3 separate regions of the Homo sapiens genome follow, and regions 2 and 3 are each linked to region 1. Evidence: fine-mapped QTL for protein levels in blood plasma. A gene starts in region 1. Each other region holds a variant in brackets. All regions are shown on one strand. Distances are between the middles of the regions.

Region 1 (2,758 bases):
GGCTTCTCCCTCTGCCCAGCACCATTTCATCCACTTTCCTTTTCGAAGTGCTAATCCCTAATAAATAGCTTGTACCCCAAATTCAGCCTCAACCTTGGCTTCCAAAAACCGAACCTGCGACATATACTAATCAAAATACCGAATACCAAATAAAAACAAAACTGGCAACGACCTGGCCGGGTGCGGTGGCTCGCGCCTGTAATCCCTGCACTTTGGGAGGCTGAGGCGGGCAGATCATGTGAGGTCAGGAGGTCAAGACCAGCCTGGCCAATATGGTGAAACCCCTCTCTACTAAAAATACAAGAATTAGCTGGGTGTGGTGGCGGGACCTGTAATCTCGGCTACTCGGGAGGCTGAGGCAGGAGAATCGCTTAAACCCAGGAGATGCAGTAGCCGAGATTGTGTCACTGCACTCCAGCCTGGGCAACAGAGTGAGACTCTGTCTCAAAAAAATAAATAAATAAATAAAATAAAAAAGAAAAGAAAAAGAAACAACTTAAATTTCTGATTTATTTCTGTCAATAGAGAAATGCTAAATAAATAAATTACGGTGCCTATGATGAAATGAGGTGCAGGTAGATCAAGTACATTTTATAAACTGATGTGGAGAAATGTTCCTGATAGCTTGTTAACTCCAAAAAAAAAAAAAAAAAGCACATAGCAGAACACAACCCCATGTACATACAAAATATAACCTAAAATGTATTTCTTCTCCTTCTCCACCTTGTAAGATACTCAGTTTCCTTCCTACTGAAAGGGATGTGCGCGTGGATTCAGGGCAGCTCCCTTAGGGGTTGAGCAGGGATCATGGGATGAAATGGAATCCTGTTCATGAAGACAGCGCCTGTGCTGAGAGCCAGAGCAGGGTGCCAAACTGTCTCCTTACAAGCTGTGAGTGATCTTGGGCTCTGAGCCTTTAGTCCGTCATCCAAAATGCCTCCCCAGGTGCTTGGGGGGAATGGTTGTGGAAGGTAAATGTCTGGCATAATCCTATCACAGATTACTCAATAAAATTTGCTCTTTTCCTTGGCTTCTCCCGTCCTATTAGGGCCAAGAAGTTCTATTCTCTGGCACCCCCTTCCCTCCTTCCGAGTGGAGTGAGGCGAGCGAGGCCACAGCTGAGCAGCCGAATGACTGGGACCCAGAGGATGCTGATGCCAGGGACTCAGGCCAGGATTGAGCAAGAGAACAGACTGGGCTTCTCTAGGATCAGAGGTGCGATGATGGAGACCCAACAATTCTGGGAAATGTAGAGGCAGGAAGTGAAAGGAAGTGTAGGGTAGAGGAGCAACAGCAGATTGTACCTCTGATCCAGCCCTGCTCCCAGATGGTAAAAATGAGGAAGCTCCGAGAAGAGGAAAGGAAGTAGGCATGGCCTGGAGGAGGAGAACAGAGCTGGCCTCAAACCCAACTCTCCCCACCCACACATGGTCTCTGTGTGTTCTAATCCCTGTTCATTCTCATTTACTGTCTAAAGTTGAGGAGATGGGATGTCCCAGATGATAGGGCTCCTGGGATTTCAGACCCAAGACCAGCAGGACTCCAGTCACCTCTACCCCAGCTCTCCAGGACACAGCGCTCCCAACTCTGAGTGACGTCCCACCTCTGGTCCTTGCAGCACAACCAACGTGGGAATCACACCCTCCAGACCTCCCACAGGTAATGGTGCTGCCGGTGCCGGTGAGACCCAGGGGACAGGGGATGTCAGAGGAAGCAGGGAGAGGGGGACTTTGGGTCTTGGGTGGGACTAAATGAAAATAAATATAAGGCGGCAGTGTGGGGTTTAATTACTACGTGGAGATTTGAGACTCTGTTCCCTTCACTGGATTCTAGATTGGGTTACGGCAGCCACAATCCCCTGTCATAAACTAAGACTCCGGGAGCTGAGGCAGGAGAATCTTGTGAACCCAGGAGGCAGAGGTTGCAGTGAGCCGAGACGGCCTCGTTGCACAACAGCCTGGGCGACAAGAACGAAATTCCATCTCAAAAAATAAATAAATAAAAATAAAAATAAACTAAGACTCAGACTCAGCCTCATTGGTGGCCCATTTCCAGCCTTATCTTCATCTCAGCCCAGCCATGCCCTAATCCCAATACTAACCCCAGCTTCTACATTTTCTTTTTTTTTGAGACTGAGTCTCACTGTGTCGTCCAGGCTGGAGTGCAACGGCACAACCTCGGCTCACTGCCACCTCTGCCTCCTGGGTTCAAGTGATTCTCCTGCCTCAGCCTCCCAAGTAGCTGGGATTACAGGCGCACACCACCACACCCAGCTAATTTTTGTATTTTTAGTAGAGATGGGGTTTCACCATGTTGGCCAGGCCGGTCTCAAACTCCTGACCTAAAGTGATCTGTCTGCTTCGGTCTCCCAAAGTGCTGGGATTTATAGGCGTGAGCCACCGCACCTGTCGCCCCCCACCCAGCTCCTACTTCAACCCCAACCCCAGAATCAACTTGAATTTTAACACCAGCCCAAAGCCAAAATTGAACCTCGACTCTATTCTGTTTCCAAATTCACCACCAAAGTTAACCCCAATTCCATCCATGGCTCCAACGTGCATACTGACCCCAATCCTAGCATGAGATACAACCTCCAGTCCTGCCTGATTAACTGGCCCACTGGGTAGTCCTAGCAATGCGTTTAGCTCCAACGTTACCCTCCAGTTTCACTCCCAAACTCAACTCGACCCCAATTCTAACTCGACTGCAAACCCAGGCTCATTTCCGTCTTAACCCTGGGCTCATTCTCAACCTGAGC
Region 2 (2,758 bases), 51 kb before region 1:
TGAGCTCTTTTTAGTTCCTCTTTTTCTTTTCTTTTCTTTCTTTCTTTCTTTCTTTTTTTTTTTTTTTTTTGAGATGGAGTTTTGCTCTTGTTGCCCAGGCTAGAGTGCAATAACGTGATCTCAGCTCACTGCAACCTCCGCCTCCTGGGTTCAAGGGATTCTCCTGCCTCAGCCTCCCGAGTAACTGGGATTACGGGCACGTGCCACCACGCCCGGCTAATTTTATATTTTTAGTAGAGATGGAGTTTCACCATGTTGGCCAGGCTGGTCTCGAACTCCTGACCTCAAGTGATCTGCCTCCCTGGGCCTCCCAAAGTGCCGGGATTACAGGCATGACCCACCGCGCCCGGCCCTTTCAGTTCCTCTTTCTACATTGCGCGTTTAACCCATTCCTGCCCCCTCTTCCCGCTCAGTTAACCCTGCTGTCACTTTCTCAGCAGCATACAAAGCTTCTTCAGGAAGCCTTCCTTTCCTCGCCCACAGGCCCTCCCCAGCCAGTGCTGAGTTGATGGTTCTTCCTCCAAGATTCACTATCTACCCTTTTGTTTTTTGAGACGGAGACTTCGCTCTTGGCGCCCAGGCTGGAGTGCAGTGGTACAATCTTGGCTCACTGCAACCTCCGCCTCCCGGGTTCAAGCGATTCTCCTGCCTCAGCCTCCTGTGTAGCTGTGATTACAGGCGCCTGCCACCATGCCCAGCTAATTTTTTTTTTTTTTTGTATTTTTAGTAGAGATGGGGTTTCTCCATGTTGGCCAGGCTGGTCTTGAACTCCTGACCTCAGAGGATCCACCCACCTCAGCCTCCCAAAGTGCTGGGGTTACAGGCGTGAGCCACCGCACCCTGACATGATCTGCTTTTAATCTGACATCTTCTCACTGTTGTCACAGCCACCTCCAGTCCCAAACACCATCGTCATCTCTCTTTTGGGACTTTGGCAACAACATCCCCTGCCAACTCTCACCCCTAAAGGTTCATCCTCATACAGCAGCCTGAAGGTGACTTTAAAAAATGTAATCAGGCTATGTGTCGCCTTGTTTAACTCATCAATAATTCCCTATTTCACAGAGAAGAAAACTCTTCCGGCCTTCCATGCCCTGGAGGTCCCCGTGATCCAGCCCCTGCCTCCCTCTCTGGCCCCATCCTCTGCCTCCTCTGCTTTCACTCACTGGCCTGCTCCCTCTTCCCCAGCACATACCTGCTGTGTAATATGTGAGTGAATGAGCCAGAGACAGGCAGAGAGAGAGCCTGTGGAGGAGGGAAC[A/G]GCCGAAGTACGGAATGAGGCAGATAAACACAGGAAGACAGAGACCAGGGGAAGTGGAAACAGATGGCAGAGAGGCCAGGGAATTCTCTCGTGATTTGGGGAACCCCACTTTCTCCAGGGTCCCACCCCTTGTCTTTGTTAGAATTGGGCCTGGGACAGGCTGCTAGTGGGGTTGGGGCTGATGGAGGTGTGGGAGCCGGGAGCTGGGTTCAGGACTGAGTTCTGGACCAGGCTGGAGATGGGCCGGGGTAGGAACTGGGAATTCGTCCCTTCCCAGGAGTTGGCTCTCCTGGGCTCCGCATTTTTGTGATTGGGGGTGGGGAGGGGGGCTGTCTAGGAGGGTTGGTGTTTCCCCTTTCTCTCACATCTTTTTTGCTTCCTGCTTTTGAAGTTCCCCAAATTGTTGGTGTCTCCAAATTCCCAACCAGGAACTGATGCTTCTGCTCCCATCCGCCAGCCCGAGCTGCAGGAAGCTGGGGCCTTCCTCTGGGGCTCAGGTGCCAGGTTCTCCAGCCCGCCCATATTGACTCCTGTCATTCCCCAGGGGAGTAAATATAAGTCAAGCACCTGAAGCTCAGGGGGAGGGAAGCAGAGCTTTTTCTGCAGCAACTGGAGGAAGTTAAAATGAGTAAAGGAATTGATTTTCTTTTCTTTTTTCTTTTTTTTTTTTTTGAGATGGAGTCTTGCTCTGTTGCCAGGCTGGAGTGCAGTGGCACAATCTCGGCTCACTGCAACCTCCGCCTCCCGGGTTCAAGCGACTCTCCTGCCTCAGCCTCCCGAGTAGCTAGGATTACAAGCGCGCATCACCACACCCAGCTAATTTTTGTATTTTTAGTAGAGACGGGGTTTCACCACATTGGCCAGGATGGTCTTGATCTCCTGACCTCGTGATCCACCCACCTTGGCATCTCAAAGTGTTGGGATTACAGGCGTGAGCCACAGTGCCCAGCCAGTAATTGATTTTCTTTGAGTACCTACCATGAGAGTTAAGGAATTGATTTTCACTGAGCACCTACAATGTGAGGGCTTTGCTTATACAAAAAAAAAAAAAAAAAAAAAAAAGGCTCAGTGTTAGACACTTTGCCTTACATTAACCTGTTTAATACCAACAAGAACCGAGTGAGGCAGGTATTATTATACCCATTTCCAGCTGAAGAAACTGAATATCAGAAACCTTGAGTCACTTATCCAAGGTTCCCTTATGGCTGGTAAGTGGCAGAACCAGAATTCAAGATCACGTTTGATTCTGAAGGCCCTGCCTGGCTTCCCACAGGGAGTCACTTTTACATGCGTCTGACTCTTTTTTTTTTCTGGGTTGGTGCTGGGCTTGGACATTGAGTGGTGAGTAAGGTAGTTCCTGAGGTCAGGGAGCTGGCAGTCCAGACAGGGAGAGGGGCACAAAGCAGGAGCTGAGGCCATCAGTGCCTTCATGCAACACAGATTTATGGGGACAGACCAAGCACAGGTACCTTTCTAGGTGCTGGGGATTTAGGACTG
Region 3 (2,758 bases), 41 kb before region 1:
CTGTCTTCCAAATGCAGTTACATCAGCATCTTTAGTAAAAAAACGAAAATGAAACGTTCACATTACATGTCTATGTAAATGTTATGTCCTGCAGAACCTAGTACTCTATTGTCATAACATTTCTCTTCTTGCATAGTTTCTTTTGCTTTTACTGGAGATATGCCAGTTATTCTAATCTTGCAATGTTTTCCTTAGGGCAGTTTTCTATTTCTTAAAATAAAAACTCTCTAAAATAAGATTCTTCTTTCTCAGGAGGACTTCCTTTGTGGCGTTCTTAGCCACAGTCAGTGTCTTGAGTGTTAACTTAATTCGAATTATTTGCTAAGTGTTATTCTAGCAGACTTACAAATCCCAGTTATTCCATCATGCCCATAGGAGAAGAGGAAAGGGCCAGTGCCCCTCTTCTGATTTTTAAACCGGCCCTATAGTTCCACAGACAGTTTTGGATAAACATAGAACTTGACCCTTCTGCCGTTAAAGCTTGAAACTCATATATATATATATGTTTATTTTTTTATTTTTTGAGATGGAGTCTTGCTCTGTTGCCCAGTCTGCAGTAGGGTGGCGTGATCTTGGCTCACCACAACCTCTGCCTCCCAGGTTCAAGTGATTCTCCTGCCTCAGCCTCCCGAGTAGCTGGGATTACAGGCGCCCACCACCACGCTCGGCTAATCTTTGTATTTTTAGTAGAGACGGGGTTTCACCCTGTTGGTTAGGCTAGTCTTGAACTCCTGACCTCGTGATCCACCGGCCTTGGCCTCCCAAAGTGCTGGGATTACAGGTGTGGGCCACTGTGCCCGGACGAAACTTATATTTGTTTGATTTGAGTTCCTTCCTCAGGAAAGTACCTTCAGTCCTCTCAAAAACGTATAGTAGGTCAGGAGTTCAAGACCAGCCTGACCAACAAGGTAAAACCCTGTCTCTACTAAAAATACAAAATTACCCGGGCGTGGTGGCGGGTGCCTGTAATCCCAGCTACTCAGGAGGCTGAGGCAGGAGAATTGCTTGAACCCAGGAGGCAGAGGTTGTGGTGAGCTGAGATCGTGCCACTGCACTCCAGCCTGGGTGACAGAGTAAGACTCCGTCTCAGAAAAAAAAAAGAAATGTATGGAAGAACTGAAA[C/T]TCACCAGATCACGCACCAAATGCCTCCTTGCACCTCCCTAGTTCCTGTTTTCTGACACATTGTTACATTTCTTCCCTGCTATATAACCCCTGGTTTTAGTCAGTCCAGGAGATGGATTTGAGACAGCTGCCATCTCTTTGGCTGCAGCACCTGATTTAAAGCCTTCTTCCTTGGCACTACTCATCATCTCAGTGATTGGCTTTCTGTGTGCAGCAAAGCCGCAGGACTTAGACTGAACTCCTGATGTTTCGCTAACAATTTCTTTTTTTTGAGACAGAGTCTGGCTCTTTTCTGCCAGGCTGGAGTGTAGTGGCGCGATCTCGGCTCACTGCAATCTCTGCCTCCCGGGTTCAAGTGATTCTCCTGCCTCAGCCTCCCGAGTAGCTGGGACTACAGACACCCGCTACCACGCCTGGCTAATTTTTGGTATTTCTAGTAGAGTCAGGGTTTCACCGTGTTAGCCAGGATGGTCTCGATCTCCTGACCTCGTGATCCGCCCACCTCTGCCTCCCAAAGTGTTGGGATTACAGGCGTGAGCCACCACGCCCGGCCGAAAGTCAGCAGGAATTATAAGTGCCCACCTAGGTTTCCACAGTACATGAGAGAACAAGATGGGGAGTTAGTAAACGTTCTCACTTTGACGGCTTATCATAGGAGAGTCTCTACTGCTTCCTTAAACTCATGTTCTTTTTTTTTTTTTTAAAGACCGAGTTTCGCTCTTGTTGCCCAAGCTGGAGTGCAATGGCGCAATCTTGGCTCACCGCAACCTCTGCCTCCCGGGTTCAAGCGATTCTCCTGGCTCAGCTTCCTGAGTAGCTGGGATTACAGGCACCCACCACCACACCCAGCTAATTTTGTATTTTTAGTAGAGACAGGATTTCTCCATGTTGGTCAGGCTGATCTTGAATTCCCCACCTCAGGTGATCTGCCCGCCTTGGCCTCCCAAAGTGCTGGGATTACAGGCGAGAGCCACCATGCCCAGACCTTAAACTCATGTTCTTTATGGTGACTTGCATTTCCAAGGCCAGGTTCTGGAATTTCACCAGTTTGCATTATAAGAAAAAAAGTCAGCCTGTAGGCAAAAAATACAGAAAAAGCTGAATAAGATTTTCTTTCCTAATAATGAAAAAGGCTTATACTGAGATGTTCTTCTACATGTGTTGTTTTTGGATAATTTCCTCACTTTCTGGGGTAATTCCTCACATGGGAGTAGGAGATAAATAGTCTGAGAACTGGAATATCTGACAGTTCTGTAGCCTCCCCTCTCGTGCCATGGATCATTTGAGTCTACAATTCTAGGTTGAAAAAAATTTTCCTTGGAAGTTTGAAGGCATCATCCTGTTGTCTCTTCGTGTTCAATATAACAGCTGAAAAATGAAATCCATTCTGATTCTTGTTTCTTTGTAGGTGATTTACTCCCACCCCTGGTAGTTTTTGGAATTTTCTGTTTATCCCTGGTATTCTGAAATTTCATGGTGACACGCTTTGGGTCATTTTTGAATGAATGTGCTCGGCTGGGCTATTACTAGAATACCTAAATCTGGAGACTTATCCTTTTTAATTCTAAGTACCAGCCTTGTATTCTTTCTTTCATCTTTTTCTTCCTTTTCTTCCTCTTATTTATCTTCTAGAACT

Direction of the effects. Alleles are on the strand shown, and positions count from the first base shown. The strength of an association depends on the size of the effect and on how common the allele is.
For the plasma level of the protein whose gene starts at base 1,460 in region 1, allele G in region 2 goes with a higher level than allele A (moderate association).
With allele C in place of T in region 3, the plasma level of the protein whose gene starts at base 1,460 in region 1 is higher (moderate association).

Evidence for each region. PIP is the chance, under the fine-mapping model, that this variant and not a neighbour inherited with it causes the effect. The UK Biobank Pharma Proteomics Project read protein levels with antibody pairs (Olink). The fine-mapping took linkage between variants from a reference panel, not from the people measured, so its PIPs are less certain.
Region 2: its variant is fine-mapped to the plasma level of the CLEC10A protein (UK Biobank, PIP 0.95).
Region 3: its variant is fine-mapped to the plasma level of the CLEC10A protein (UK Biobank, PIP above 0.99).

The regions. Positions count from the first base shown.
Region 1 is chr17:7,078,953-7,081,710 of GRCh38, reverse strand. CLEC10A (C-type lectin domain containing 10A) reads left to right here and starts at 1,460. Exons shown (of 9, transcript NM_001330070.2): 1 at 1,460-1,659.
Region 2 is chr17:7,129,766-7,132,523 of GRCh38, reverse strand. LOC105371512 (a long non-coding RNA gene) reads right to left here and starts at 1,277. Exons shown (of 3, transcript XR_934191.3): 1 at 1,196-1,277. RefSeq lists an enhancer at 1,029-1,566. The variant A/G (reference allele first, on the strand shown) is at 1,262.
Region 3 is chr17:7,119,908-7,122,665 of GRCh38, reverse strand. No RefSeq gene overlaps it. Among named protein-coding and RNA genes, the nearest start is that of ASGR2, 6.5 kb to the right of the region's middle. RefSeq lists a silencer at 725-824. The variant C/T (reference allele first, on the strand shown) is at 1,123.